2 separate regions of the Homo sapiens genome follow, and region 1 is linked to region 2. The links come from fine-mapping of genetic effects on gene expression. A gene starts in region 2. The other region holds a variant in brackets. All regions are shown on one strand. Distances are from middle to middle. Region 1 overlaps MAG (myelin associated glycoprotein). Region 2 holds the start of USF2 (upstream transcription factor 2, c-fos interacting).

Region 1 (15,762 bases), 45 kb after region 2:
GTTCTTATTTTTATTATTATTATTATTTTTTTTTTGAGACTGAGTCTCGCTCTGTCACCCAGGCCAGAGTGCAGTGGCACGATCTTGGCTCACTGCAACCTCTGCCTCCCAGATTCAAGCGATTCTCCTGCCTCAGCCTCCCAACTAGCTGGGATTACAGGCATGCGTCACCATGCCCAGCTAATTTTTTATTTTTAGTAGAGACGGGGTTTCTCCATGTTGCCCAGGCTGTTCTCCAACTCCTAGTCTCAAGTGATCCACCCGCCTCGGCCTCCCAAAGTGCTGGGATTACAGGTGTGAGCCACCATGCCCAGCCTATCTGGCTCATTTTCAATTCTAGGGTCACCCTGTGAAACAGGGGTGTGTTATAATTATCCCCTTTACCAAGGAGAAAACTCAAGGGCGGAATTCCCTGAGGCCAGGCAGCTATAAAAGTGGGTCCGAGCCCGATAATTCCAGACTCCTGTCTGCCCCAGCTGTTAAACCTCTGGCTGCCTCACCTCCCTCACAGCTCTTAGCACTCTAGGACTCAATCCGGCTTCTCTTGAAAACGAACACGCAGGCAGATGTGGAGTGTGCAGGCCTCACCTGCTAGACTTGAGGGGAGCAGTGGCCCTGTCCCCTGCCCCACCTGCCAGCTCCCTACTCTTCACCCAGGCCTGTGTCAAAGTGCTTGCCCTTGGAGAGTGCGACCCTCAGGCCCCCTCCCTCTCCACACAGTCAATGTTCCCTGGCACCAGGTCTCCAATGTTCACTGACAGTGGTGGTGACCCTTGAGCAGGGCCTTCTGTCTTACCTGCCAACCCCAGAGCCCTGAACGGCACGGGGCATGCAGGAAGTGTGCAACCTTACCGAGTGCCTGAGATGTCTAGGGAACTAGCTTGAGTACGTTGTACGCATTGACCTATTTTGTTCTTACAACCATGTGATTGAGGGGAGGGTACCATTCTTCAACCCAGTTTAATACAAGGAAACAGAAGTTTGACTGGCATCCAGTCCCAACAGGGCTGAACAGACCTGGGCTAGAATCCCAGCTCTGTCCCCATCCTCCTGCCTGAGCTCAGGCGAGTGACTTCAGCTTTGCAACCCTTAGCAAGGGTTCATAACAGTATCTTACCACAAAGATGGCTGTGAGAACTAAGAGAATTAGGCTGGGCGTGGTGGCCCACACCTGTAGTCCCAGCACTTTGGGAGGCTGAGACAGTTGGATCACTTGAGGCCAGGAGTTCGAGACCAGCCTGACCAACCTGACAAAACCCCATCTCTACTAAAAATACAAAAATTAGCCAGGCGTGATGGCGCACACCTGCAGTTCCAGCTACTCAGGAGGCTGAGGCAGGAGAATCGCTTGAGCCCGGGGGGTGGAGGTTGCAGTGAGCTGAGATGGAGCCAGTGCACTCCAGCCTGGATGACAGAGCAAGACTGTCCCAGCCCCCCACTCCAGCCTGGATGACAGAGCAAGACTGTCCCACCCCCCCACTCCAGCCTGGATGACAGAGCAAGACTGTCCCATCCCCCCACTCCAGCCTGGATGACAGAGCAAGACTGTCCCACCCCCCTACTCCAGCCTGGATGACAGAGCAAGACTGTCCCATCCCCCCACTCCAGCCTGGATGACAGAGCAAGACTGTCCCACCCCCACACTCCAGCCTGGATGACAGAGCAAGACTGTCCCACCCCCCCACTCCCCCACAAAAAAGAAGAACTAAGAGAACAATACTGAGTGTTCATAGTGCTACATACTCTGTGGATATTGGATGTCATCATCTTTCTCACTGATTTTTCCTTTGGACTCCAGGTTAAATATTTGTTGTGTGTTTTGCTGCTGAGGTTTTGCTCATGTGACCTCTCTGCGGGAATGGTTCTGTCTATCCACCCATGAGTACTTGGGTGGGATGTTACGTATTTTTAATTTTAATTTTTTATTTTTTTGAGACAGGGTCTTGCTCTGTTGCCCAGGCTGGAATGCAGTGGTTTGATCATCGCTCACTGCAGCCTCAACCTCCTGGGCTCAACTGATTCTCACACTTCAGCCTCCTGAGTAGCTGGGACTACAGGCACACATCACCATGCCCAGTTAATGTTTTAATTTTTTGTAGAGATGGGGTCTTGCTCTGTTGCCCAGGCTGGTCTCAAACTCCTGGGCTCAAGTGATCCTCCTGCCTTGGCCTCCCAAAGTGCTGGAATGACAGGTGTGAGCCACTGCACCCGGCTGGGATGTTAAGTGTTTACAACACACTTGCGCGCCTATCTTCGGAGTCCCGTAGCCCCTTGTGAGTTACTGACTGTAACCCCCTGGTTTGCACAGATGAGAACTCCATCCTAGAGGCCCAGGAGCCTGAGTGGCCTCACCCAGCCAGTAGATGGCAGAGCTGGGATTCAAGCCAAATCCATCCCACCACAAACTCCTCATTCTTTGTACCTTTGTCTTACAGGTTTGTCTAGAGTCCCATAACAGTTTCCGCAGCTTCACAGGTTGTCTGAAAAGATACTAAGCACGTGCACCGGCAGGGTGTCGGCGTTCCGCCGACATCCAGGTCGAACACTTTGTCACCAGAGCACCAGTGGGGCTGTCTTGAGTGGAAGTGCTTTGAAAAAGTTTTATGTCTGTCGGTTCAGGTTCGCTGTTATTAATGTACTCCGTGGCGTGTTAGCTGGTTAACGCTATAGCAAGCATATTGCAGCTCTGCCCGAACAGGACTTTTTATTCAGTAGACTTAGAGATGTTTGCACAGAGGTTCCCATTCCTGCCGTGAATCCGTGTGCCCGTGTGACTCCCAGGTCCACCACCGTTACCGGCACATTCTTTTTGCTAGCAATTGAAAATAGGTGGGGTAGGTGAGCCAAGGGTCTCTTGCCTGTGTGTAAGTGGGTTTTGGTGAGAACTCACTGAGAACCAGTGCTCAGTCTAGAGCAAGCCAAGGAGGGTGCTGGACTCTCAGGCCAAGAAAGAGAACACAGTTTAAAAAGCAGCATTCTGTGCTGTAATACAATTGCGTATTTTGGTACAAAAATTAGCCAGGCATGGTGGCACGCACGTGTAGTCCCAGCTACTCAAGAGGCTGAGGCAGGACAATCACTTGAACCTGGGAGGCAGAGGTTGCAGTGAGCAGAGATCGTGCCACTGCACTCCAGCCTGGGCGACAGAGAGACTCCGTCTCAAAAATCATAGTAATAACAATAATAATAATAATAATTTCCTGTTTTGGAAAATGAAAGAAAAAACCTACCAGTACTATTTTTGTAATCCAGTGGCAGCAAAGCAAAGCTCAACCAAGTGACTTTGGGTGGAGGGTGGTGTTTGGTGCTAGTGGCAGGAGGGAATCTCATGGGTGAGGAAGGGCCGGGGTTCAAGGCGGCTTTAGGGGAGGAAGTGGGGGGCATCTGCAGCGCAGACTGAAAGGAAGGAGCACAGCCTGGAAGCCAGAAAGGAGGGGATAGTCTAAGCCTGTGTGAGCCCCAAGGGTCTGGGGAGGCCGGGGGCTGGGAGAGTTCCATGGTTCCTCCCTTCTACGTGTGGGGCCCAGAGTGGAGAAGGAGCAAGCCCCTGTCTTGATGGAAACAGGAGGCCCCTTATGTAAGTGTGTGATGCAGGGAGGGTGAGTGCTGGGGAGGAGAACTGAGTGAGGCAGGGAGTGAATGATACGTGGAGCGAGGTGCAGCTTCCCTGGGTGGTCAGAGAAGGAGACGCCGCATGGGTAGAGGCCAGTTTGGAGCGAGGGAGGGCGTTCCACAGGCAACTGATGGAAGTGTTCCAAGTTGAGGGAGAAACG[T/C]ACAGACCCTGGAGTGGGAGAAAGCTCCACGATTTTCAGACACAGCAAGGAACCGGTGTGGCTGGAAAGGACTAAGCCAGGGGGAGAGAAGGAGAGAGTGTGTGGTCAGGCAGGGCCTGAGGGGCCTTGTAGATGAAAGACTTTGTATTTTGGGCTGGGCACAGTGGCTTGCGCCTTATAATCCCAGCACTTTGGGAGGCCAAGGCAGGAGGATTGCTTGAGCTCAGGAGTTCAAGACCAGCATGGGGAACATAGCAAGACCCTGTCTCTACAAAAACAAACAAAAACCCTCCAGTAACTATCATGAGTATGACAGATTTACCGTCCTCTGCAATTCTGAACATAAAGCTTTAAAATCAAAAGGCTTTTTGCAAATTTGGCACCACCCTGATTTGACAGCAAAATCTCGCCTAAAGAACACAAGGCTGTTTGTAATCTATACTGATTTCATTTAGGGTGAATATTCGTACTTTTTGCTGTATACATTACATTGAACTATGTGAAATTTTTTCTGCATGTCAAAAATGGTCAAATGTGGCTGGGCGCAGTGGCTTATGCCTGTAATCCCAGCACTTTGGGAGGCTGAGGCGGGAGGATCACTAGAGGCCAAGAGTGCAAATGAGCTATAGTACTGCCACTGCACTTCAGCCTGGGCGACAGGGCCAGACCCTGTCTCTAAACGATAAAAAATAAAGGATTTGTATTTTAGGTGAACCACGGAGCAACAGAAGGAGGGTTTTGAGCAGAGAGTGCCATGATCTGATTTATGTATTACAAGGTGAATGAGGTTAGAGAGAGTGTAAGAGCCAGGGCCCAGGAGAAACGGCCCGTCCCTGTGACATAGTGCTCTGTCCAGGCTGAAGCTGAGGCTAGAGTCGCCTCAAAAGTGGCACCAGAAGAATTGCCCCAAGAGAGCACCCCAAACCACCCCGAAATGAGGCCACTTGGGATTCCAAAGAGAGAGGCACTAAACCACCAGGTGATCATCAGTCCAAAGCATTTGGGAGGGGAACTTGCACAGTGCTACGGCGAGAGAAAGGGAGGGTCTACCCAGACACGTCCGTGAGGGTCAGGGTATGGGTTTACATGAGGGTTTAAGGAATTTGGCCCAGGGCTGGGGCTGGTTTCTTTCATTCTTTCATTTTTGTTGTTGTTGTTGTTTGGGGTTTTTTTGAGACAGCGTCTCATTCTGTAACCTCTCGTACTCCTGACCTCAAGTGATCCACTCACTCTTCGGCCTCGCAAAGTGCTAGGATTACAGCAGTGAGCCACCATGCCCGGCCTCTTTCAGTGTTTTGAGCAACAACCTAAACACCTTTATCAGTGCCTGGGAATGTTCAAGGCCCCAGGCGTGGGTTAGTGAAGCTTGCAGTGAAAACAGGCAGCCGGCGGGGTCGTAGTGAGGTCAAGGCGCTCTCAGTCAGGACAGAGAAAAAAGGAGGGGAAATTGGAGGGCCCTACAGGAAGCTACCGCCCCCATCCTTGGCCACACTGGCCTTGCCTTGAGCCAAGGAGTCTCCGGGGCCGGGCCTCGCGTTGGCTCCGGGCCACCCTCAGACCTGATTTTGCCCCTGCAGTCGCCCCTGTGCTCCTCCTGGAGTCCCACTGCGCGGCAGCCCGAGACACGGTGCAGTGCCTGTGCGTGGTGAAGTCCAACCCGGAGCCGTCCGTGGCCTTTGAGCTGCCATCGCGCAATGTGACCGTGAACGAGAGCGAGCGGGAGTTCGTGTACTCGGAGCGCAGCGGCCTCGTGCTCACCAGCATCCTCACGCTGCGGGGGCAGGCCCAGGCCCCGCCCCGCGTCATCTGCACCGCGAGGAACCTCTATGGCGCCAAGAGCCTGGAGCTGCCCTTCCAGGGAGCCCGTGAGTGGCGTGGACTTGGGGTGGGAGCCACAGGAGGGAGCGGGCACGTCTTAGATCCAAGCTCCCAAGGCTGACCAACAGCCACAGAGCATGGGCTATGCAGATTGACAGAAAGGTCAAATTCTCCCTTTCCGGTTGGAGAGGAGAAGCCGCCCTGAGTTTGCCCCGAGTTTGCTAGGACCTTTGAGGCATGAGCCCCTCCCCAGGGCCCTCTAGCATGAAAGGGATTGCCCTGGCACGAGGAGGCTCCGTGCCAATCAGTCAGTGCAAGGATGCCCCGGCTGTGTGACTACATTGACTGTCATCCCAGCATGTCTCCAAAGTTCTCAGGTGTCGTCACCACCACCCATAGCCCTAAGGGCGCCTGGGTCTTTTCTGTCCTCAGATCGACTGATGTGGGCCAAGATCGGGCCTGTGGGCGCCGTGGTCGCCTTTGCCATCCTGATTGCCATCGTCTGCTACATTACCCAGACACGCAGGAAGTGAGTGCCAGCTGGGGCTGATCTGGGGATGGGAGTCTCCAAAAAGGGGACCTGGTGGGAGATGGAGGCCCAGAGTGGGTGGGGGAAGGCAGCACCATAAGTGTAGAGAAGGCAGATTCTGTTCTGGGAATGTTCAGCTGGACAGAGGAGAGAGGGTTCCTGTTAATTCCAGCCCCTGCTGGTCAGGGGCACACCAGGGCCTGGGCTGAGCCCTTTACACACATCATTTGAGACCTGTTTGCCCACATTCTATTTTGACAGCCTCCCTATCTCTAGGAACTCTCCCCTACACACTCCAGTGTGGTGGGGAAAGCCCAGGTACCCCACTGCAGCCACAGCAGCAGGTCCACTTGACGCCAGAAGCCCCAAAGATTACACACATCTGGGGCAAAAAAAAAATAGGCCTTGGCCGGGCGCGTTGACTCACGCCTGTTATCCCGCACTTTAGGAGGCCAAGGAGGAAGGATTGCTTGAGGCCAGGAATCTGACACCAGCCTGGGCAACATAGCAAGACCACATCTCTAAAAAAAATTTTTTTTTAATTAGCCAGGCATGGTGGCACACACTGTAGTCCCAGCTACTTGGGAGGCTGAGGTGGAACGATTCTTGAGCTCAGGAATTAGAGGCCAGCCTGGGCAACATAGGGAGACCCCATCTACAAAAAAACAAAAAAATTAGCTACTAGTGGCACGTGCCTGTTGTCCCAGCTACTCGGGAGGCTGAGGAGGGAAGATCGCTTGAGCCTGGGAGGTTGAGGCTGTAGTGAGCTATGATTTCACCACTGTACTCCAGCCTAGGTGACAAAGAGAGACCCTGTCTCTAAAAACAAACAAACAGACAGACAGACAGACAGAAAGCCTCTCCAGCCCCAAACCATACCCACCTGGCCCAACTCAGCTGCAGCCGTGTTTCTTTCTTGTGGCACACACACATCAGCTGTCCTGAGAAATAAATTAACCCCTCTGCTCCACATCCTGGTGGCAAGAGGGGCAGAAAGACCCAGAGCCTATGAGGGGAACCTGGAGAATCCAGGTGGGGGTCCTGAAAAACGGCAGAGCTCAGGGGCCAGGTGGCTCGTCCCCAGCCGGGCAGGGGCCACAGAGGTGGGAAGGATGGGCTGTGTGGGTAGGAGAGGCTGGTGGTTCTGAAAGGGCTGCTTGCCACATCTTAGAGATGGGTGGGAGAACTCTGAGGTCCCCTGAGCCAAACTCCTAAAACACGTGGGGGTGCAGAAAGGGAGGGCAGAGAGAGGTCTGACGAGTCCTGCCCTGCAGAAAGAACGTGACAGAGAGCCCCAGCTTCTCGGCAGGGGACAACCCTCCCGTCCTGTTCAGCAGCGACTTCCGCATCTCTGGGGCACCAGAGAAGTACGAGGTAAGGACCAGGCTCCAGGCTGGCCTGGGAACCTGGATGCCAGGGACACTGAAGGCCTGGGAAAGGCCTGTGAGGCCAAGGGGCAGGGGAGTGGGAGCGGCCTCTCACAGGAGGAGAGGAAGGACATTCCAGGGCTGGGTTGGACCTGGAGGCTGGGGAGGAGGTGCCCAGGCCGAAGCTGTGTAGGGGGCGATGGGACGTGGGGCCTAAGGGCCCCCTCCCCTCCCTGCCTGTGTCTGTGACTGCATTTCCTTCTCCAATAGTCCAAAGAGGTTTCTACCCTGGAATCTCACTGAGTGCCCCAGGAGGTAGGTTCCGGGGGCCTCAGTGTGCCCTCCTCTGGGCCCTCCTTGGGCCCTGGGGTTGGCGTGCATGTCCGTGTGTCCCTGTCAGGCGTCAAGGTGGTCTCTGGTGATGTCCGGGCCTGCCCGGCAGTGCTGGCCTTGTCTAGTCTGTCCTGTTGCAGCTCCCTTCTGTCTGTGGCCACCGTCCTGTGTGTCCAAATTCCTGTGGCTAGGGGGTGGAGGGAGGGGTGGGAAGCGTGGGGGGAACCCACATGTCACCTGCAGGACCTCCCAGATTGAGGGCGGACCCATGCAGGACCCATGGGGGGGCACGTACCAAACCAGGTATTTCCAGGAATTTGGAAAGATGGGGTCCTGACTAGGTGGTTTTCACCCAAAAAGGTATTAGGGGTTACATTGTGTGCCCTCAAAACTCCTATGTTGAAAGCTTCCTGGACGGGGGCAGTGGCTCACACCTGTAATCCCACAACTTTGGGAATCTGAGGCGGATGGATCACTTGAGGTCAGGAGTTTGAGACCAGCCTGGCCAACATGGTGAAACCCTGTCTCTACTAAAAATACAAAAAATTAGCCAGGCGTGTTGGCAGGTGCCTGTAATCCCAGCTACTTGGGAGGCTGAGGCAGGAGAATTGCTGGAACCCAGGAAGTGGAGGCTGCAGTGAGCAAAGATCGAGCCATTGCAATCCAGCCTGGGTCTCAAAGAAAAAGAAGAAGAAGAAGCAGCTTCCTGGAGAAACTGAATTTGTAGGCAAATTTCAAGTTCAGCAATGATTAACACTGGCAGAAGCTCCAGAGTGGGACCTGGTGACCGCAGGGCTCGCTGGGCCTGCGGTCCTTGAGAAAGGAGGTTCTCGCAGGGATTTATTTGGGACTGAACTCAGGAGCTCTGAGGGTGCAAACGCTCTGTCCTCTGCATTGGGAAAAGGCAGGGAGCAGGACCCTGCTAATGGGCGGTTTCCCCTCTTAGAGCGAGAGGCGCCTGGGATCTGAGAGGAGGCTGCTGGGCCTTCGGGGTGAGCCCCCAGAGCTGGACCTGAGCTATTCTCACTCGGACCTGGGGAAACGGCCCACCAAGGACAGCTACACGCTGACGGAGGAGCTAGCTGAGTATGCTGAAATCCGGGTCAAGTGAAGGAGCTGGGGGCAGCCTGCGTGGCTGACCCCCCTCAGGACCCTCGCTGGCCCCCACTGGCTGTGGGCTCCCTTCCTCCCAAAAGTATCGGGGGCTGGGGCAGGAGGGGAGTGAGGCAGGTGACAGTGAGGTCCTGGGGGCCTGACCTCCCCCTCCTTCCCAGCTGCCCCTCCCTGCCAGCACCCCCACGCCCTCATTACGGCTCCTCTCTAACCTCCTTTACCCTCATCTGTCTGGAGGGGAGCTCTGTCTGTCCGTGTTATTTATTGCTACTTCCTGCCTGGTCTCCTGCCCCCACACCTGGCCCTGGGGCCTGTACAAAAGGGACATGAAATAAATGCCCCAAAGCCAAATGCCAGTCTAGATCCTGATGCTTTCTGACCCGCCTTTGGGCAGCCTGCCATCCCACCGTCTACAGAACGATGACAGAATTTCTCCTTGCCCTCGGCTGAGCCTGGTATGCAGGCAAGGGCCCAGGGATTTTAGCCTTGAACCCAGGGCCAGTGGCCACTAAGTTGCTCCCACTCTGAGCTGGTAGCTGCGAGCTGGGTCTGGTTTGACTTATGGATGATTTCACATAAAAATCCTCATGCTGGTTTTTGCCGCAGTCAGATCAGCTGACAGCACCAGGCTTGCACTTGTACGTGGACATGACTTGCTGAAAGGGAGGGTCCTGTGCACTGGCCGCAGTCCCCACCACTCCCTATTGTCCCACACCTGGCCGGCTTCCTGCACTGAGATTACCTCCTGGTCCCTGCAGCTTGGAGTGCGAGCCACAGATCTAGGTCTCACCAGCCCGTGTTGGTTTCACCACCATCTCTCACATTCATGCTGCAATTTGCAGCGTCAGCCTTTATACATCACTACATTCAGTTCCAGAAACATTAATTAAGCACCAGCTGTATACTGAGCCCTTTCTAGAGGCTCAGGCTGTCCTGAGAAGGGTCTCCTAGGACAGCTCTGTGACGATGAGAACACTGAGACTTAGAGAAGTTAGGTGATTTTCCCAGGGTCCCAGAGCTCGGAAACGGTGTGTCCAGGCCATGGGGTTGATGCTTCTGATTCAAATGCACTCTTTCTTTTCTTTTCCCTTCCTCCCTCTCTCTCTCTCTCTCTCTTTTTTTTGATGGAGTCTGTCTCTGTCACCCAGGCTGGAGTGCAGTGGTGCAATCTCAGCTCACTGCAACCTCCGCCTCCTGGGTTCAAGTGATTCTCCTGCCTCAGCCTCCCAAGTAGCTGAGATCACAGGCACTCGCCACCACGCCCGGCTAATTTTTGTATCAAATGCACTTTTTCTATAATACCTGTCAGGAAGTTAAAAAGGGCCAGAGTGTCTGGTATAAATGGGATTGATAACTAACAGTTGTTGAACGCTTTCTATGATTCTACCCAGTTTGCATTAATTAATCTCCATTAACCTCATTTACCTTCCCTAATAACTATGACAATGGTTCTCAAAGTGTGGTCCCTAGGCAGCAGCATCAGCAGCACCCAGGAACTTGCTAAAAAGGCAAATTTTCAGCCCCCACCCTAGACTTCAGGAATCAAAAACCCTGAGGTGGGGCCCAGGAATCTGTGTTTTGAGAAGTCCTTGGTGGATTCTGATGCACGTGCACGTTTGAGAACAAGCAGCTGAAGCATGGAGAAGTTACATCAGTTCTGTGGTCCCCAATTGTTAGCAGTGGAGCCCAGATTTGAGCCCCGACCACTGGCTTCGGAGGCCACACTCTGACGCTGTGCTACACGGCCATCTTGGTGAGAACCAACAGCTGCTCACAGAGCCCGGGTGCTGGAGGAGCAGTAAGGTTAAGCTGTGGGCTGCGGGCAGTGAGGGCAGGGTTTCCTAGACGGCAGCTCTCCCTGATTTTTTTTTGTTTTTTGTTTTTTTTGTTTATTTTTTGAGATGGAGTCTCACTCTGTCATCCAGTCTGGAATGCAGTGGCACGATCTTGGCTCACTGCAACCTCTGCTTCCCAGGTTCAAGCACTTCTTCTGCCTCAGCCTCCCAAGTAGCTGGGACTACAGGCGTGTGCCACCACACCCAGCTAATTTTTGTATTTTTAGTAGAGACGGGGTTTCACCATTGTTGGCCAGGCTGGTCTCGAACTCCTGACCTCAGGTGATGCGCCCAACCCACCCTCCCAAAGTGCTGGGATTACAGGCATGAGCCCCTGTGCCTGGTCTCTCCCTGCATTTTGAAGAAGGCAGAGGACACAGCACAGAGACCAAAATAAAGGCCTAGAGGCAGGAATAAACAAACCAGGTCGGGAGGGGAGGTGACATGGGGCTGCTTGGCTGGGATGGGAAGTCCACATGCAGGAGGAAAGGAGACGTGTGGGGGGCCGGGCTGTGGGAAGGGAAACCCTCTGTGGGGCCTGTCCAAGCTGGGAGGGTGCATGCCCTTTCTTCACGGAGCTCACAGTCTTGCAGGGACAAGGACATGAAAGAATCTCATGCACAATATCAAACTGCAACTGTGACACCGGCTTCCAAGGAGAAGCTCAGAGTTTTTACAGCAGGGGTCCCCAGTGCTATACTGCACACCCAGATACTGGTCTGTGGCCTGTTAGGGACTGGGCTGCACAGCAGGAGGCGAGCAGCCAGCGAGCAAGCATGACCACCTGAGTCCTGCCTCCTGTCAGATCAGCAGCGGCTTTAGATTCTCATAGCAGCACGATTCTTATCGTGAACTGTGCACGCAAAGGATCTAGGTTGCACACTCACAGATGGTGCCTGATGAACTGTCACTGTCTCCCATCACCCCCGGATGGGAACGTCTAGTTGCAGGGAAACAAGCTCAGGGCTCCCACTGATTCTACATGATGGTGAGTTGTATACTTACTTCATTATATATCACAATGTAATAATAATAGAAATAAAGTGCACAATAAATGTAATGTGCTTGAATCATCCCCAGCTCCCTCCCCACTCTCAGGCCCATGGAAAAATTGTCTTCCATGAAACCAATCCCTGGTGCCAAAAAGGTTGGGGACCGCTGTGTGACTTAAGGTCACAGGGGGCAGGGGAGGCTTCCCTATGGAAGGAAACTCACACATGTGTGAAGGCCCCAAGTGGGAACATGTTTAGCAAAATTCCAGGAGCTGAAGCAAGGCCAGAGAGGCATCGGATGGGGCTGGGGATACACAGGGGCCTCTCAGCAGCCGGGAGGGAAGCCTCTTCCAGATCCCCTGCATACATGCTCACCAGCCCTGCCCTGACACACCTGTCCCCTGACGACAGACTCTGGCTCCAGCAGGTCTGGCCTGGGAGGACTTCACCCAGAGGAGCAAAACATTGTCAATAACCAGGGATCGGGGAGTAACTCACGCTGCCCAAAGTGCAGCTTGAGGGCCCTGGGAGCCACTGTGACGCTACTGTGTATGCTTCATTTAGTATGCACCGGAACAACAGGAAACCAGAATGCCGCACCAGCTTCGGATGAGGCTAAGTCAAAATAAATAAATAAGAAAGAAATCAATCAACTGAACTGATTTTAAAAATGTATTAAATAAACATGTTGCAGGTGGCTCCTGAAGGTTGTAGGCAAACCTCTAAAGTTTGGGAAACAATGAGGGAATTTGACACAAAGACCATCCTTAGGAGGGACCGGCACTCAGCCATGGCGAACGTGTAGGACCGAGCCAGGTGCGGTGGCTCATGCCTGTAATCCCAGCACTTTGGGAGGCTGAGGCTGGTGGATGGCTTCAGCCCAGGAGTTTGAGACCAGCCTCAGCAACATAGCGAGACCCTGTCTCTACAAAAAATACAAAAATTAGGCAGGTATGGTGGCATGCGCCTGTAGTCCTACCTACTCGGGAGGCTGAGGTGGGAGGGATAGTTTGAGCCCAGGAAATGGAGTTTGCAGTGAGCCGAGATTGAACCATTGCACTCCAGCCTCAGCAACAGAGTGAGACCCTGTCTCAAAAAACGAACAAACAAACCAGTAGGACCTGAACTCAAGTTCACTCTCTCAGACTTTCCCCACCCAGCTCCTGGACCCCACCAGAATTCAACACATGCTCACTGAGCACCTCTGTGTGCCAGGCCTATGCTGGGCCCCAGGGTCACAGCAGTGCCCAAAAAGAATCACTCTGTGACCTCCCAGAGCTGACATTCTGCAGAAGAGACAGACAACGATCAGAAAGACAAGCAAACACATGACCGCACATCTGACAGTGAAGGAACTGCAGAGGGGTGCAAGGTCAGGCTGTGCTGGGTCAGGCTGCCATTTCAGAAAGAGAAGTCATTTGACTTGAGACCAGAAGGAAGTAAGGGAGGGAGCTCTGTGGGTTCCTGGGGAATGTGGGTCCAGGGAAGGCCAAAATCGAGTGCAAAGGCCCCTGGCGAGAATGTACTTGTTACCTTCATGGAACAAGAAGGAAAGAAGCATGCTTGAGTGGAGTGATGGAGCCAGAGTGGTTGCCCAAGGAAGCTCGATTACACAGGGCCTTGTAGGCCACAGGCAGGACTGGGGCTTGTTTGTTTGTTTCTTTGTTTGTTTGTTTTGAGGCAGAGTATCGCTCTGTTGCCCAAGGAAGCTCGATTACACAGGGCCTTGTAGGCCACAGGCAGGACTGGGGCTTGTTTGTTTGTTTCTTTGTTTGTTTGTTTTGAGGCAGAGTCTCACTCTGTTGCCCATGCTGGAGTGCAGTGGCACAATCTCAGCTCACTGCAGCCTCTGCCTCCCGGGTTCAAGCAATTTTCCTGCCTCAGCCTCCTGAGTAGCTGGGATTACAAGCATGTACCACCACGCCTGTCTAATTTTTATATTTTTAGTAGAGACGGGGTTTCACCATGTTGACCAGGTTGCTCTTAAACTTCTGACCTCAGGTGATCCACCCGCCTCAGCCTCCCAAAGTGCTGGGAATACAGGCGTGAGCCATCCCGCCCAGCAATGGAATTTAATCCTAGGTTTTTTTTTTTTTTTTTTTTTTGAGATGGAGTCTCGCTCTGTCACCAAGGCTAGAGTGCAGTGGCATGATCTCGGCTCATTACAACCTCCGCCTCCCGAGTTCAGGTGATTCTCCTGCCTCAGCCTCCCAAGTAGCTGGGATTACAGGCACGCACCACCATGCCCAACTAATTTTTAATAGACACGGAGTTTCACCATGTTGGCCGGGCTGGTCTCGAACTGCTGACCTCAAGTTATCTGCCTGCCTCTGCCTGCCAAAGTGCTGGGATTACAAGTGTGAACCACTGTGCCCAGCCAGGACTTGGGCTTTCAAAGAGCGCGTTGAGAAGCCGCTGGAGAAGTGAGTTCGGAGGGGTGTGATGGCAGGCTTGAGGCTTCAGAGGCCCACTGGCAGCTGCGTGGACAGTGAGCACAGGCTATCAGTGGAGGCAGGGACAGGGCTTGGGAGGCCCTGGCCATTGTCCAAGAGAGAGGAAGTGGAGATGGGGAGAGGGGTGGGGTCAGGACCCATTTTGGAGGAGGAAGTGGTGAGACTCACTTGAAGAGTCAAAGGTGACTCCAGCAGCTTCCTTAAGAGGTTGAAGAAAGCAGGAGGGGCAGGTTCAGTGGAGAACGCAAGAGTGATCTACTCCGGCCGAGTTCAGGCCCAGGGAGGCCCTCAGGGACAGGGAAGGCAGATGGCACCCCCTCCCTGGGAAATGCCAAGCCGAGGAAGAGTCAGAACACATGACACAGTGACTCAGAGAGATGGGGGCAGACGCTGAGATGAGGGTTGGCCAGGCAGGAAGGAAGGTGAGAAGGTCTCATGGCCTCACGTGCCAGTAGGGCTGGGCCACCACGTGTGGGAGGGAGGACACCCAGGCACCAGGCCATGGTCATGACACGGGTCTCTTTGTCCCTCCCGGTCTGCCAACCTCCTGAGTCACTCCTGACGGAGATGACTGATCCATCCCTGGCCCGCCTCCCACCCTGTCCCTGGGACAGTGCCTGGGGCAGGCAGCTCCATTATCCTCCTTGATGAAAGAGCTCCCAGCCAGCACTGGCCACTCCAGAGCCTCCTCCCCAGGTGGGTGATCATGCAGGGCTGGGCTCTTGCGACTGGCCGGGGGTAGAGATGCACCGCACTGCTGAGAAGTGCTTTCTAGGAGTTCAAGACCAGCCTGGGCAACACAGCAGACATTGTATGTAGAAAAAAAAATGTTTAAAAATAAGCTGGGCACAGTAGTGCATGCCTGTCATCCCAGCTACTCAAGAGGCTGAAGCAGGAGGACCACTTGAGCCCAGGAGTTTGAATCTGCAGTGAGCTATGAGTGCACCACTGCATGCCAGCCTGGGCAACAGAGTAAGACTCAGTCACTAAAAAAGAAAAAAAAAAAGATCGAATGTGGTGCTCATGCCTGTAATCCCAGCACTTTGGGAGGCCAAGGCGGGCAGATCATCTAAGGTCAGGAGTTTAAGACCAGCCTGGCCAGCATGGCAAAACCCCATCTCTACTAAAAATACAAAAATTAGCCAGGCGTGGTGGTACGCGCCTGTAGTCCCAGCTACTCAGAAGGCTAAGGCAGGAGAATTGCTTGAACCTGGGAGGCGGAGGCTGCAGTGAGCTGAGATCGCACCATTGCACTCCAGCCTGGACAACAGAGTGAGACTTGGTCTCAGAAAAAAAAAAAAAAAAAAAAAAAAGAAAGAAAAGAAAAAGGGGGAGAAAAAAAGGAGAAGTAGGCGAGCCTCTTTCTTTCCCCACTCTTCTCGCTCTCAACTCCAGGCTGCTCCTTAAACAGGAGGTGACAACCTCAACCTCGCAAATTAAAAAAAAAAATCTTTTAATTTTGAAATAATTATCACAGGAAGTTGCAAAGATAGAACAGAGAAGTCTGGCAGCAGCTGAGCCAAAGGCCCCTTCCCACCCTAGAGCTCGA
Region 2 (15,762 bases):
TCGAGACTAGCCTGGCCAACGTGGCAAAATCCCGTCTCTATAAAAAATATAAAAGCCAGGCGTGGTGGTGCACATGCCTGTAATCCCAGTTACTCAGAAGGCTGAGGCATGAGGATTGCTTGAACCTGGGAGGCAGAGGATGCAGTAAGCCAAGATCAAGCCACTGCACTCCAGCCTGGGCGACAGAGTGAGACTCTGTCCAAAAAAAAAAAAAATCCAGACGTGGTCAGAGTCCATGGGCAGTGAATGAGGACAGTTGATGGTGTGCAAAATCGACCCACCTCTTGCTACATCCCCAAGGCCTCATCTCACCCGAGTCCCTCGCCAAAGCACAGCGGTTTTGCCGTGTGCCCTGCTGGGATGGCGCTGCATGGCACACACACTGTGTAAGTTTGAGTGCAGCTGAAACGAAGCCGATTCCAGACACCCAGGGGCAGGGCGGGGTGTCCGTGTGGCTGGGAGGCCTCCTTGTGTTAGGGGGATGTTGCCATCGGCCAGGTGCCCTGCTGTAAGCCAACACATGGAGTCTTGTATGACATGTGCTCTGCATGAGTGATGCCGCTGGGCTGTACACTGCCATCTTCACATGTGTGAATGAGCACGTGACTGGGGGGTACTTGGGCTGCAAGACAGAGTTCATGTGTGGGGGATGGAACACGTGCACCAGTGACCCAGGAACCTCTGCCTGTTCTTCGGTAAAATGCACCATTTGCATCAGCAGTTCCCAAAATTAGTCTCCAGGTCTATTTACACTCTAAAACATTATCGAGGGTCTCCAAGAGCTTTTGTTTGTTTCTGTGGGTTTTATGTCTATCTGTTGCTTAACATATTAGGAATTAAAATGGGGAGATTTTCCTTTTTTTTTTTTTTTTTTGAGATGGAGTCTCGTTCTGTCGCCCAGGCTGGAGTGCAGTGGCTCGATCTCGGCTCACTGCAAGCTTCACCTCCTGGGTTCACGCCATTCTCCTGCCTCAGCCTCCCAGGTAGCTGGGACTACAGGCACCCGCCACCACACCCGGCTAATTTTTTTTGTATTTTTAGTAGAGACTGGGTTTCACCATGTTAGCCAGGATGGTCTCGATCTCCTGACCTCGTGATCCACCCACCTGGGCCTCCCAAAGTGCTGGGATTACAGGCATGAGCCACTGCCCGGCCTTAAAATGGGGAGATTTTTCAAGCCCAAGATACACAAGGAAGACTGGGCAACATGGCAAGACCCTGACTCTACAAAAAATTTTAAAATTAACCAGGCATGGTGGCATGCACCTGTGAGCCCAGCTTCTTGGGAGGCTGAGGCAGGAGTATCGCTTGCACCCAGGAGGTCAAGGCTGCAGTGAGCCGTGACTATGCTACTGCACTCTAGCATGAGTGACAGAGACCCTGGCTCAAGAAACACAAACACACACACACACACACACACGCATATAGTCCATTAGGCATCAGGGCGATGATGGCATCAGGGAGCCTGGGAAACTCTACTGGACATTCATGGGAGAACAAGTGAAAAAGGCAAATAACATCTTAGTGTTATTCTAAAATTTCTTCTTTTGGCCTTGTGGACAGGACCACGCTTTGAGAGCTGTGACTGACATGCCTCTGTCCTGTTGCGAGGGCCTATAGTGCCAAGTGCATGAGCTCTGGGGAGGGCTTCGTGGGTGCAGAGCTGGGCCTGTGGAGGCCCCTCAGACACAACACTGGTGGGGCTCAGAGCTCCAGGGGCACTCGAGGGAAGACAAGAACCGGCTCTGAGATGCGTGAATGTGACAGTGCATGAGTAGAGATGGAGACCTTGTGGGTCCCAGAACCAGGACTGCATATGACTTTCATATGTGGGTATTTTTGCCTTCATGGGTCCCTTCCTGTTTTAAAAAAAATGTGTGATTATGTTGTCACAAAGAGTTTATTCCTGTATATTGTGTTAATTTGTGTTCAGATTTGTAAAGTAAAATTAAACCATTTCAGCCAGGTGTGGTGACACATGCCTGTAGCCCTAGCTACTTACCCCAGAGGCTGAGGTGGGAGGATCGCCTGAGCCCACGAGGTTGAAGCTGCAGTGAGCCATGATCACACCCCTGCACTCCAGACTGGGCGACAGAGCTGAGATCCTATTTCGTGGGCCCTAGGTCCCTGTGCCTGCTGGAACAGGACATCCCTATCACCGTGGTTGGAGCCCTTTGGGGTGCTAAGACCTATGAATGAGGGAAACTTAGGGTGCCCAAGCTGAGGTAGAGCCCTCAGAACCCCCTGGGATTTGTATTGGAGCCCTCGTGGCATAACACAGGTGGATTATGCAATGGGAGTTTCTTACCTATAAGCACCCACATGTGGGCGGGTGGAGGGTAGGAGCCATGCACTAGGGCTTCAGCCCCCAGCCCCTTCCCGCTTCAGGGCACACCTTGCACTTGGCCAGCCTGGAGCTGGGCTTTCGGGGGTGGCACAGCCTGGGCTGGCTCTGGCCAGCATAATCTGTTTCTCTTTTGTCCCTCCAGGGAGGACCTCAGGGGTGGCTGAGCTCTTACCTGGTTTTCAGGCGGGGCCCATAGAAGGTACGGGGGGTGGATCCTGAGTTGGGCTTCTCGGGAGCTCCCATACATCACCTACTGCTTCTGACTCTAGTTAGTATCCCCTTCCCCACTAAACCCTGCTCACTGTGGACCCCTCACTAACCTGGCCTGACTGTGGCTCTGAGGCATCTAGTGGTCTGGCGCTGGGCCTAGGCTAGGCTGGGCTGAGGAGAGCCTGGGGTGCAGGCCAGGGCTCTGTGACTGGCACCTGCGGTGCTCTTGAGGGTGTGGCGTCTGGGCAGCTGGCTCTCTCTTTGGTCTGGGGGCTGCAGTCTGTCTCCCTCTGTGCAGGCTGCCTCGTTTTCTGCCTTGTGTTTTTTGCACCTGGGGGAGGGCCGTAACTGGGGAATGGCCGGGATGGTAGAATGGGGAGTGTGCTGTGCCCAGCCTCTGGCACAAAAAATCCAGCCAGGGCTGCAGGTTCCTTGGTGAGCTTTGCAAATCGTCCCCGACCTCAGTGCTGGCTCCGCACCATGTACCCCTGCTGTGCCGTTAGCCCTGTTCCCTCCCAGGCCTCCGGGCTCAGGGCCTGTTGTCTTTCTGCAGACTGGCTCTTCGTGGTTGTGGTATGCCTGGCTGCCTTCCTCATCTTCCTCCTCCTGGGCATCTGCTGGTGCCAGTGCTGCCCGCACACTTGCTGCTGCTACGTCAGGTGCCCCTGCTGCCCAGACAAGTGCTGCTGCCCCGAGGCCCGTAAGTGTCCCGCTCATGGCCACCCTGGTTTGGGCAACATCCTGCATCCAAGGGAAGGAGGTGGCCATCCACCTGCCCCCAGGACAGTGGCGTTGGTCTGGAGGGTGTGAATTTAGCCAGTGGGGAGAAAGTAGGCTGAGGAGGGTCTGCTGTTTAGATTGTCGTTTACTTCCTCCAACTTTTAGTTTATTTTTATTTATGTTGTTCTTTTCTTTTGTAAGTATAATCCATACACATGGTAAAAATGTCCAACAGTACAAGATACTAGTCACATGGAAGTAAAGCCCTCTAAAAAAACCAAATCTTGGCTAGGCGCAGTGATTACGCCTGTAATCCCAGCACTTTGGGAGGCCAAGACGAGTGGATCACTTGAGGTCAGGAGTTCCAGATCAGCCTGGCCAACATGGTAAAACCCAGTTCTCTACTAAAAATACAAAAATTAGCTGGGCATGGTGGTGATCGCCTGTAATCCCAGCTACTCAGGAGACTGAGGCATGAGAATCGCTTAAACCCAAGAAGTGGAGGTTGCAGTGAGCTGAGATCACGCCACTGCACTCCAGCCTGGGCGACAGAGTGAGACTCTGTCTCAAAAAAAAAAGAAAAAAAAATGTTAAGTGAAAAAGTTAAGAAACCAAACAAGGTTTACAACACTACATGATTTAAGCAAAAAAAATTTTTTTTGTTTTAGAGAAAGGGTCTCATTCTGTCATCCAGGCAGTGCAGTGCGATCATAGCTCTCTGCAGCCTCAAACTCCCGGGTTCAAGCAGTCCTCCCGCCTCAGCCTCTGGAGCAGCTGGGACTGTAGGCACACACCACCATGCCCAGCTAATTTTTTGATTTTTGTTTTTTGTAGAGACGGGGTCTCAGTATGTTGCCCAGCCTGATCTCAAACTCCTGGCCTCAGGTGATCCTCCCAAGTCAGCCTCCCCAAAGTGCTGGGATTACAGGCATGTGCCACCATGCTGGCCAATTTTTAAAAATTTTCTGTAGAGACAGGGTCTTGCTATGTTGCCCAGGCTGGTCTTGAACTCTTGACCTCAAGTGATCCTGCCTCAGGCTCCCAAAGTGATGGGATTACAGGCATGAACTACCACACCTGGCCTTAAACTTAAGCAAATTTTTTTTTTTTTTTGGAGACAGTTTCACTCTGTCGCCCAGGCTGGAGTAAAGTGGCGTGATCTCTGCTCACTGCAACCTCCGCCCCCCGGGTTTAAGCTATTCTCCTGCCTCAGCCTCCCGAGTAGCTGGGATATAGGCGCCTGCCACCACGCCTGACTAATTTTTGTATTTTTAGTAGAGACGGGGTTTTGCCATGTTGGCCAGGCTGGTCTCGAACTCCTGACCTCAGGCAGTCCGCTCCCCCGCACCCCTACCTTGGCCTCCCAAAGTGTTAGGACTACAGGTGTGAGCCACCATGCCTGGCCAAATTTAAGCAAATGTTTGAAAACACATACCCACAGGAATGCTGCACATTTTACCCAGCTACTATGTCTAGGGTCGTATCTAGCACACCAGCATGGCTACTGTGGAGAGCTGGGACTGGATGTGAGATGAGAGCTAAAGGGGAAGTAAGCAAACCAAGCAGGGGAAGGTAAGAGAAGACAGAAGACAGAGAGAGAGGGACCTAACTCTATGAGAGGAGTCAGACATGTGCAATTGAAAAAGACTTGCTCCTGTCTCTCTTCTGTGAATGTTTGTGAATATCCCAACGGGACACTTTCACAGAGGAGCTGATTGACGTGGTCACAGCCATCAGCCTTGGGACACCAGACCACAGTGTGTACACTAAGTGGCACTGATGGACACTTCAGCATCCCTCTAGCTGCTGTCCCGTTTCCCCTCCTCGGGGACCACAGCTGTTGCCAGTCCTTGGTTTCCTTCAGGAGGGTGTCTGGGTAGACCAGCCTGTGTGCACACAGTCCAAGATACATGAACAGTGAAGTGCCAGGCAATCCTTGCAAGCATGGGCAGGTGGAGAGCTGAGGCCTGCTTGACACCTTCCTGCTCAGAAGCCCAGTGAGCAGTTTCCCTCCCTAGGGCTCAGTGTCATCCCCTATAAAATGGGGCTTATGGCAGAGCTCACCACACTGGGTGCATCTGGGGATTTGGCGAGCTCATGTGCACACCATTGAGCATGGGGCCCAACCTATATAAAATATTCTACGTCTGTCAGCTGCTGGGCACTGCCACTATCAGCCTCAGTAGTGACTGAGGGACAGGGCACCAGTCAGAGCCCTGGTGCACACAGAGTGACCCCAGAGAAGCAGCCTTCCCTCTCTGAGTCCTGTTTCCTTCTGTTAGGTCCTGACTTCATGGGTTGTTGTTAGCATTAAGGAAGTCGCTGGCTAATTTTATAGTCATTGAAGTCAGTGGTGTGCAACCTGGTTCCTCAAAGGATCACTTCCCTGAAAAAATTCCACTGCTCCCTGGAGGCTTATGCAGGCCATCCCATCCCCTCCCTCTTGTTGTGTTCAGCTGACAGCTTTTTGCTCAGTGAGTAAGTGTTAGGTCCATTTCACAGATGGGCTGCAACCAAGTTTGCAGTGAACCCACTAAGACCAGAGCTAGGGCCAGGACTAAATGCTGGTCCCAATGCCACATTCCCCTGTCCCCACACCACATTTCCTCCATCCGGAGACCCTGTTACCCCAACCCAGGGCCCCATTAACTCCCTGGCAGAGGCCCTGTTACATCTGCTGCTGCCACAGCCTCCGCCCACCCTTCAGGAGGCAGCAGGTCCCACTGCTGATGATAAAGTTGCAGGCTGCCTGAGCTAATGAAGGGGCTTCCTCTAGGCTGTGCACTTAGTCTTCTGCTTCCAAACCAAATCAGAGGTGAGGCACCCTCTCTGGGCCCATCTCTCTCCTCCATTTTCCTGTTGGGGTCCCAGGGAGGAAGCCACTTGCCTAGGGCCCAGGAATTTTGCAAGCCTCTTGCCCTAGGGAGGAAGGAAGGGAGGAGGATCTTACCTTGAACTGTCAAGCCTAGAGCCTGGTGGGGCAGGCAGAAATGGGTGCAGTCCATGAGTTAGAAACACTAGAGGAGACACTTTGCTGCTTGGCCGGGGCAGGCAAGTTAATTCCCGAGGCTCCTGCCACTGCATCTCAATCTGGAAGGTGACCAGGTGGGCAGGACCCACGTCTCCCAGATGACTCATTTTTTCTAGAACAGGGGCTTGGCTGCCAAAGAGGATACTTGATTTCGGCTTGTGGGGACAGTGGTGGACCCAGCATCTGGGCTTTATATAAAGGGCAGCTTTGTTGCCCTGTAAACACACAGACCATGGGTGGCCACTTCTTCCAGTAAGTTAGCTGGGGAGTTGGAAGTTTAGGTAAAACCTTTTGATTGACAAATGTTGGCGAATTACCATGCTGTTAAATGAAACATTGTTCTGCCACCCTGGGGCTGTGGGTGCCTGCGTGCACCCTCTGAAAAATCACACAGGAAGTGGGGTGGGGTCTCTGTGAAGCTGGTGTCCCCCAGCCTCAGGGATGCTGCAGAAATGGAATGAGGACCAACAGGGACTCAGATGTCCAAGGAAGCTCTACAGCGGAGAGGACGGCTTGGGAAGGAGGTCCAGGCCCAGGTCCCTCCGGAACCCAATGGGTATGGGGCAGCCTGGCTCCTGCCTCATCCCCCTTCTCCTGTTGATTGTGTCCTCACAGTGTATGCCGCCGGCAAAGCAGCCACCTCAGGTGTTCCCAGCATTTATGCCCCCAGCACCTATGCCCACCTGTCTCCCGCCAAGACCCCACCCCCACCAGCTATGATTCCCATGGGCCCTGCCTACAACGGGTACCCTGGAGGATACCCTGGAGACGTTGACAGGAGTAGCTCAGGTGAGGCCGGGGGAAGCAGGAACAGCTGGTGGGAGTGTGCTGGGCATCTGGACACTGAGGGGCAGGGGCTGGAAGGAAGAGTGTCTTGGGAGCCGAGGAGGGGCTCTGCTCCTGGTGCGCGGCCACTGACAGCCACTCTCCCCCAGCTGGTGGCCAAGGCTCCTATGTACCCCTGCTTCGGGACACGGACAGCAGTGTGGCCTCTGGTGAGAATCCATCGTCCCGAAGTTGGATGTGCCTGTAAGGGAGAGGGGTGGGCCAGGATCCATCCTCCCAAACCGACCACCACCCCCCTGTCCCTAGAAGTCCGCAGTGGCTACAGGATTCAGGCCAGCCAGCAGGACGACTCCATGCGGGTCCTGTACTACATGGAGAAGGAGCTGGCCAACTTCGACCCTTCTCGACCTGGCCCCCCCAGTGGCCGTGTGGAGCGGGGTAAGCAGGAGCCTTGGGGTCTGAGGGCTTTTAAGGTGGGGGGGTGAAACATGTCTCCCTGATACCTGCCGCAGGGACTCTTGGTGCAAACCCTGGACCCCGGGCTCCTCCAGCAGTCAGTGACACCCCCCTTCCCTGCAGCCATGAGTGAAGTCACCTCCCTCCACGAGGACGACTGGCGATCTCGGCCTTCCCGGGGCCCTGCCCTCACCCCGATCCGGGATGAGGAGTGGGGTGGCCACTCCCCCCGGAGTCCCAGGGGATGGGACCAGGAGCCCGCCAGGGAGCAGGCAGGCGGGGGCTGGCGGGCCAGGCGGCCCCGGGCCCGCTCCGTGGACGCCCTGGACGACCTCACCCCGCCGAGCACCGCCGAGTCAGGGAGCAGGTCTCCCACGAGTAATGGTGGGAGAAGCCGGGCCTACATGCCCCCGCGGAGCCGCAGCCGGGACGACCTCTATGACCAAGACGACTCGAGGGACTTCCCACGCTCCCGGGACCCCCACTACGACGACTTCAGGTCTCGGGAGCGCCCTCCTGCCGACCCCAGGTCCCACCACCACCGTACCCGGGACCCTCGGGACAACGGCTCCAGGTCCGGGGACCTCCCCTATGATGGGCGGCTACTGGAGGAGGCTGTGAGGAAGAAGGGGTCGGAGGAGAGGAGGAGACCCCACAAGGAGGAGGAGGAAGAGGCCTACTACCCGCCCGCGCCGCCCCCGTACTCGGAGACCGACTCGCAGGCGTCCCGAGAGCGCAGGCTCAAGAAGGTGAGGGCCGCCCTCCCTGGCGTCCAGACCGTCCCTGGGCCCCCAGCCGGTCCCCGCGGCTCATACCCTTCTTTCTTTCTCCCTTGCAGAACTTGGCCCTGAGTCGGGAAAGTTTAGTCGTCTGATCTGACGTTTTCTACGTAGCTTTTGTATTTTTTTTTTTAATTTGAAGGAACACTGATGAAGCCCTGCCATACCCCTCCCGAGTCTAATAAAACGTATAATCACAAGCTCTGGAGAGAACCATTTGTTCGGCCGCGCGGGGCGGGGGACCGGGGCTGCTCCCGTATGCGTCTGTAAAGCGCCGCGTCCCGGGGGCACCGGAGTCCGGGGCCGGGAGGAAGAGACCCAGCCTGGCCCGGCCCGCGCCCGCGCCGCCGGCCGGAGAACGTGCCCCGCGCAGCCGCCGCCCGCCTGCGTGCGCGCCCCGGCCCCGCCCAGGCGTGCGCATGCGCCCCGGCCCTCCGCCTTCGCGCACCGCAGGCTGGCCGTCCGGGACGCGCGCGCGCTCCTCTCCCCTTCCAGCCCATCCCCCCCAGCCCCCCACCGACCTACTTTACTGTCTCCAAACTCGGGCAGCCCACCTGGCCCCCGACGACCCCAGCCCCTGCACCGGGTACCCCGACGTTCCATCCAGACCCGCGTTTCACCAGGGCGGCGCGCGGCGACCTCGCGCCCCGCGGAGCCCCGGGCTCGCGCGCGCCCGCCCGCCCCCGGAGACAGACCAGCGCGCGCGCCCCGGGCCGCCTCCCCCCAGCGCGCGTCCGCCCCGGGGCTCGCGCCGCCGCCGCCGCCGCCGCCGCGCGCGCGCAGCTCAAGTAAAGGAGGAAAAAAAAAAGGGGGAAAAATAGAAAGCGGCGGCGGCTGCAGCAGCGATCCGCCGCCGGACTGGGCCAAGCCGGGCGGCGGCCGCGCGAGCCGGCGATCCAGGGCACTGGCGGCGGCCAGCCAGGGCGGGCCGTGTTCAAAAAAAAAAGTCGCGGCGGCGGCGGCTGCTCAGGGAAGGAGGCCTGAGGGCCGCGTGCAGCGGGCGGGCAGCTGGGTGGGCTGGGGGCGGCCGCGCGGCGTCCCGGAGCCTCGGGCCGCCCGGAGCCGGCGGGCGGGCGGAGGCGGAGGCGGCGGCGGCTGCAGCGGCTGCAGGAGCGGCGGCGGCTGCGGCGGCGGCGGCGGCATCTCCTCCTCACATGACCCCACTGTTTGTCCCCGTGATCAGCGCGAGCGGCTCCCGTATCTCCTCCGTCCCCTCCTGCCGCGCGGCGTGAGCGCCGGGCTCGGGGCCCCCCCGGCCGCCCGCCCCCTCCCCTCCCTCCCTCCCCTCCCCTCCCCTCCCCCCCGGGCCCCGCGCCCCCCCCGCCCCCGCCCCCCCCATGGACATGCTGGACCCGGGTCTGGATCCCGCTGCCTCGGCCACCGCTGCTGCCGCCGCCAGGTAAGATCCCCGGCCCGGCCGTGCCCCCGCGCCCCGGCCCCGGCCCCGGCCCCGCGGCCTGCAGGCCGGGGCCGCCATGATCCCGAGCGGCCGCGGGCCCGGCTCAAAATGGAGGCCGCCGGCGCGGGGGGGACCTGGCGCCTCCCGCCCCCGGCCCCCGGCCTCGGCGGCGCCCCCGGCCTCAGGCGCGGCCGGGTGGGACTGGGGCCCTGCAGCTGGGCGCGGGGGCGGGGGCGCGGGCGCGGGCCGCGCTGACCCTGCTCCCTCCTGTGCCCCTGGCAGCCACGACAAGGGACCCGAGGCGGAGGAGGGCGTCGAGCTGCAGGAAGGTGAGTGCTTGCCGGGCCGGCCGCGCCCGGGGAGGGCTGGGGGCGCTCGGCGCGGCCCTGACCGTGCCCCGACCCTCCTCGGCCCCAGGCGGGGACGGCCCAGGAGCGGAGGAGCAGACAGCGGTGGCCATCACCAGCGTCCAGCAGGCGGCGTTCGGCGACCACAACATCCAGTACCAGTTCCGCACAGAGACAAATGGAGGACAGGTGAGCGGCGGGCCGCGAGGGCGAACGGGCGGGCGGGCGGGCGCGCCGGGAAGGCTCGGACCTGGCCCCAGCGCCGGCCTCGCCGCTCTGCCGCCCCCTGCAGGTGACATACCGCGTAGTCCAGGTGACTGATGGTCAGCTGGACGGCCAGGGCGACACAGCTGGCGCCGTCAGCGTCGTGTCCACCGCTGCCTTCGCGGGGGGGCAGCAGGCTGTGACCCAGGTGGGTGTGGACGGGGCAGCCCAGCGCCCGGGCCCCGCCGCTGCCTCTGTGCCCCCAGGTCCTGCAGCGCCCTTCCCGCTGGTAGGTGCCCTGCCACCCCTGGGTGGGGGGGGGAGGGAGTGGAGAGGGGACACTGGCTCTGCTCTTGGGGAGCCCCGGGGGTGGGGCAGGTGTCGCCCAGCGGATGCTGCCTTCAGGCCTCAGGCTGCATGGGGCCAGATCCCTGTTGTGCACCGTGAAACCTGGGGACAGTGCTCTTGGAATTTTTTTTTCCCGCAAAATGGGAATGATGTGTCTTAAGAGGAAAGTTTCTTAGAGTGCGAAACGGATTTGCTCAGCAAGTGATCGCTGACCTCCCGCCATGTTCCAGGGCTGTTTGAAACACAGGACAGAATGCTACACGCAGAAGGAGTCCCCACTCCTGTTAATTGCAGAGAATGCAGTAAACCCCAAGCACAGCAATGAGGGGACGGGATGGAGGAACAGAGAAAGCTAAGGGTAGCCTCTGCCCTCCTACTCCCCAGGCTGTGATCCAAAATCCCTTCAGCAATGGTGGCAGTCCGGCGGCCGAGGCTGTCAGCGGGGAGGCACGATTTGCCTATTTCCCAGCGTCCAGTGTGGGAGATACTACGGCTGTGTCCGTACAGACCACAGACCAGAGCTTGCAGGCTGGAGGTGAGGAGTAGAAGTCAGATTGGCAGGTGGGGGAGGCAACGGGCCCAGCAGGGAGGGAAGCCCCCCCAGCCAGTTCTGACTTCACCCTGCCTTGCCACTAACCCCCCACTCTCCCTGCAGGCCAGTTCTACGTCATGATGACGCCCCAGGATGTGCTTCAGACAGGAACACAGAGGACGATCGCCCCCCGGACACACCCTTACTCTCCGTATGTGCAGGGGACACCTGGAGGGCCTGGTGTTGAAATGGAAGGAAGAGGGGTTTCTGGAGTAGAAGCTGGGCAGTTAGCATGAAGTGGGCACATGGTGTAATGTTTTTTTTCTTTGCCTGTTTCTGCTGCTCTAGTGCACATAAAGTATCATGTCTTTTGTTTTTGCAGATGGATTTACCTTGCAAAGATAATTTTCAAATCTAATACTTAGCAGATGCTTGGGCAAACAGCTCTGCGATAATACATGCCCCCTTTTTTTTTCCTCCTCTTGTAGAAAAATTGATGGAACCAGAACACCCCGAGATGAGAGGAGAAGAGCCCAGCACAACGAAGGTGAGGACAAGGTGTGGCTCCGGGTCCCCCTGACCACCACCCTCACAGGCTCAGCCAGCCCTGGAGTGTGGAGTGACAGAGAGAGAAGCCACTCCTGGGCAGGCCACAAGTGCTCCAGAGGGCTTTGCTGGACGCTGTAAAGGTAGAAAGTGAGCAACGAGGGGAGAGTACAGTGTCAGAAGTAGAGGGACAGGGAGTGTGAATTGGAACTGGCCATTTGTTGACCCGGCTGGTGATCTTGAATTCATGGCCCACATCTAAGATGGTGGACTTCACACTCCCATACGGATTGCCTGCCCCACTTGAAAAATGGGGCTGACCGGGCTCACGTGGGCTGACCTTTCCACGTGGCAGCTGTCATGCTCACATCCCGCACTCCCATGCCTGCCTGGCCTCCAGAAGTAGGTCTGTTCCCCCAGGGAGCACATCTGAGGGAGAAACTGCATGAAGTTCTGCCTCTGGCTACCTAAGGCCGGAGCATCCTGCCCTTTCCAGAAACACCAGGTCTCACCTCAGGTCATTTGGCCTTCAGCACTGTCCCGCCCCGCCTGTCAGTAGCCACTGCAGTGGGCACAGCACTGTGCAAGTGCCAGGAGAGTGCTTACACCCAAACAACCATCATTCAACAAATATTTACTGCCCGTGGGTTCTGGGCTGAGCGGCACAGGCCCTGTGCCAGGTCTGGAGTCTGGCCTGGAGCGTCAGGGAGGCTCAAAGGCCTGAGGGCTTATGTCTCATGGGTCTCATGGGACATTGATGGGGGGTGGGCTGGGGTGACGCTTCCCTAGGGAGAGGGGAGTGTGGGTCAGGTTACTTTGTGGGGTGCTGGTTTGGTTGTGGGAGAAGTTCCATTTAGAATGCCTCAGGAGGGAAGATCGGGAAGGCCTCGAATGCCCGAGTGAGGGGCTGAATGCTGAGTCCTAAAGGTGGTGATGGGACTGGGGTCTGTGGCCCAGGTAGTTGTGTTCTGAGCAGCTCCTCCCTGAGTTCAGGCGTTCATTCAGCGCGTGCATACTACGACCAGCCCCCCTTTTGCGTCCTCAGATATGGCAATGCAGCAGATGATAGGACAGACAAGGTCTCAGCTCTCTGTGCGCGTTCTGGTGGGAGAGATGGGAGTCACACAGCCGCATCAGGCAGTGCAGGCAGTCACAGGCAGGAGAGGAAAGCTGGGGAAGAAGGTGGCGGGTGATGGCGGCATGGTAGTGTGCTCTGAAGGGCTCTTCGAGAGGTGACATTGAAGCAGATCCCTGAAGCGACCTGAGGGAAGGGGCCTGTTGAGAACCTCAGGAGAGTCCCGGGCAGAGGGAAGAGCTAGAACACAGGCCAGGCCCTGAGCCAGGGCCGCCATGGTGTGTCTGCAGAAGAGCAGAATTCAGGAAAGGAAAGAGGAAGTTGGCGCAGTGGAGGGGGCTGCCCAGGCCAGATGGTGGAGGACCTTGGAAGAAGTCCCCAGTGTGGCTGTCTGGGCTCCTGTGGTTTTATTCCAGGGTGATGAGAAGCCAGCAGAGGGGTTTGGGTTGTGGAGGCTGTTGGCAAGAGTGGTGGGAAGGGGCTGGGAGGTAGGAGACCATACGACTGTCAGGCCTGAGACAGGGCAGGGGTTGGGGGAAATGTGGGGAGGACTCCAAGGCTGGAGAATAAGGGTTTCGTGCTGAACTCCCCTCCATGCTTGGAAGGGAAGGGGTGCATCTGAGCTTGGTTTTGAGATGCAGTGAGTTTGAGGGGCCCCCAGAGCAGCCCCAGCCCCACGACTTACCTGTGGTGGGGCGTCAGGGTGGTTCTTAATCTCCGTACCTGTCTTCCCTCTGTGAAATGGTGGAAGCACAGCCGCCCCGGGCACCTGGTGGGGATGCAGTGAGTCTTGGTGGCCACACAGTAAGGCGAAGAGAGGACTCAGAACCCTCCCACCCCACTCTCACCCCCGCCTCTCCCTTAGTTAATCTGACTCCAGGCAGCCTTGAAACTTTCTCACCCTGTGAAGCAGTCTTCATCACCTGCCCACTTCTCCAGCTCCGTCCTGTCTCCGCTTTCCTGACTTGCAGAGCATCTGCCCCAATCTGCTCATCCTCCCAGTACCCTCAGCCATCTGGCTCATGGCTCTACCAAAACAGCTCCACTTCCGGTCACCCGTGGTGACCCCATTGCCACATCCACTGGCCTCCTTTGCTGTCTGGGCTCCAAGCATCTGATGCTGCCTGTTTCCCTCTGTTCCTTTCTGGAATCTTCCTTTCTCCTCCATCCTCTCTGATTCTCCTGTGATCTTTGCCTTTCCTACCCCACTGTTAACAGTGAAATTTCCAGGGCTGTCCCAGTTCCAAGTGAGTAGATGGGGGTGCCGGGGAATCTGTGTTTTCCATCAGCTCTTCAGGTGATTTGTCATAGTGGACAAGCTTGAGAAACTGCTTTGGCTGCGAGTGTTTCTTTTTTTTTGAGAAGGGGGTCTCACTCTGTCACCCAGGCTGGAGTACAGTGGCACAATCACAGCTCACTGCAGCCTTGACCTCCCAGGCTCAAGCGATCCTCACACCTCAGGCTTCTGAGTGGCTGGGACCACAGGCAGGCGTCATCACATGGGGTAATTTTTTTTTATCTGTAGAGTGGAGGTCTTGCTATGCTGCCCAGGCTCGTCTTGAACTTCTGGCCTCAGGCAGTCCTCCGGCCTCGGCTACAGGCCTGAGCTGCCACACCCAGTCTTGCTGGTGTTTCATAAGGTCCGGCCCCTCCCGTCGGCCTCAGGTGTATGACTTGTGAGGCCCAGCGATGGGCTCGGAAGCTCTTGGTCAGTATCCCCCAAACTCTGTTCCCCCTTGTAGGTGTTCCTCTTTTTTCTTTGCTGCAGAAGAGTGTGTGACTCACAAAAAGTTGAGGACTGTTCCTTGATGTCCTCCCAGGCTTCGCCCACCACCTGGCTCCTGGTAATGCAAGGAACTGTGTTTCCATCCATTCCCTTCCTTTCACTGCAACTCCAGCCCCACGTTTTGAACTACCTATTCGAGATTTCTGTCTCTGGACATCCCTGTAATGCCTCAAACTCAACTCGCCCAAAAGAGAATGTGCCATCTCCCGTCTCCAAAGGCTTTCATGCAACCTTCTTCTTTGCAGAGCAGCAAAAGCTACCCCTGTCACAGCTGCCCAAGCCAGAAACTAAGACCAGAGCCGCTTTCAACTCTGCCCTCTTCTTCCCTTATGGCCACAAACCCCAAGTTTCTCTTCTGTGGTGATTTCAGATCCGCTTCTCTCACTTCTTTTTCCCTCCTTCCCACCACTTCTTGGTACTGCAGGAGCTTATCCCAGAGTCACAGACTCAAATGCCTGCAGGGGCCTGAGGGAGGGAGGTGCACTTGGCATCTCAGGAAGGGGTGTGTGGCTGGGTGTGGTGGCTCCCGCCCGGAATCCCAGCACTTTTGGGATTACATTTTGGCCAAGACGGACGGATCACTTGAGCCCAGGAGTTTGAGACCATCCTAGGCAATGTGACAAAACCCTGTCTCTACCAAAAAAATTAAAAATTAGCCAGGCCTGGTGGTACATGCCTGTAACAGTCCCAGCTACTTGGGAACCTGTGGTGGGAAGATGGCTTGAGTCCGGGAGACAGAGGTTGCAGTGAGCTGAGATTACCCTCCAGCCTGAGCAACAGACCCAGACCTTGTGTCAGAAAAAGATAGGAAAGGTTGTGGGGGGCCCCCAGTGATCTGGGGCATGTGTGCGCTGCCTGAAGGGTGGCCCTTGCCCAGTGCCTTCCCCTTGCTGCCCTGTCAGAATCTAGGGCCACTGTTGCCAGAAACTCTGAGAAGCTAGAAATCGAGACTTATGTGAAATCTGATTTTTAGGTGCCAGATTAGATTGCTTTTTCCGTTTCATTGATTTCTACTCTTAATGTTACTAATTCATGCTTCTACTCACTTGGTTTTTTGTTTGTTTGTTGTTTTGTTTTGAGATGGAATCTCGCTCTGTCACAGTGGCGCAATCTCAGCTTACTACAACCTCTGCCTCCCCGGTTCAAGTGATTCTCCTGCCTCAGTCTCCCAAGTAGCTGGGACTACAGGTGCCCGC

Evidence for each region.
Region 1: its variant is fine-mapped to the expression of USF2 in whole blood (TOPMed, PIP above 0.99).

Annotation. Positions count from the first base shown.
Region 1 is chr19:35,304,524-35,320,285 of GRCh38, forward strand. MAG (myelin associated glycoprotein) reads left to right here. Exons shown (of 11, transcript NM_002361.4): 8 at 5,351-5,638; 9 at 6,024-6,120; 10 at 7,395-7,494; 11 at 8,767-9,284. The coding sequence ends at 8,931. Among named protein-coding and RNA genes, the nearest start is that of CD22, 17 kb to the right of the region's middle. RefSeq lists enhancers at 207-1,094, 6,923-7,424, 7,425-7,924, 14,522-14,701. The variant T/C (reference allele first, on the strand shown) is at 3,774.
Region 2 is chr19:35,259,436-35,275,197 of GRCh38, forward strand. It overlaps USF2 (upstream transcription factor 2, c-fos interacting), which reads left to right and starts at 9,527. Exons shown (of 10, transcript NM_003367.4): 1 at 9,527-9,728; 2 at 10,011-10,057; 3 at 10,146-10,264; 4 at 10,368-10,568; 5 at 11,012-11,162; 6 at 11,283-11,370; 7 at 11,648-11,706. The coding sequence starts at 9,667. It overlaps LSR (lipolysis stimulated lipoprotein receptor), which reads left to right. Exons shown (of 10, transcript NM_205834.4): 4 at 2,490-2,546; 5 at 3,111-3,257; 6 at 6,924-7,097; 7 at 7,244-7,303; 8 at 7,401-7,532; 9 at 7,674-8,299; 10 at 8,389-8,529. The coding sequence ends at 8,424. It overlaps LOC105372380 (a long non-coding RNA gene), which reads left to right. Exons shown (of 2, transcript XR_935939.3): 1 at 1-386; 2 at 1,564-1,967. RefSeq lists enhancers at 2,689-3,387, 4,905-4,954, 10,883-11,622 and silencers at 8,308-8,387, 8,468-8,537, 8,638-8,787, 9,946-10,135, 10,276-10,595.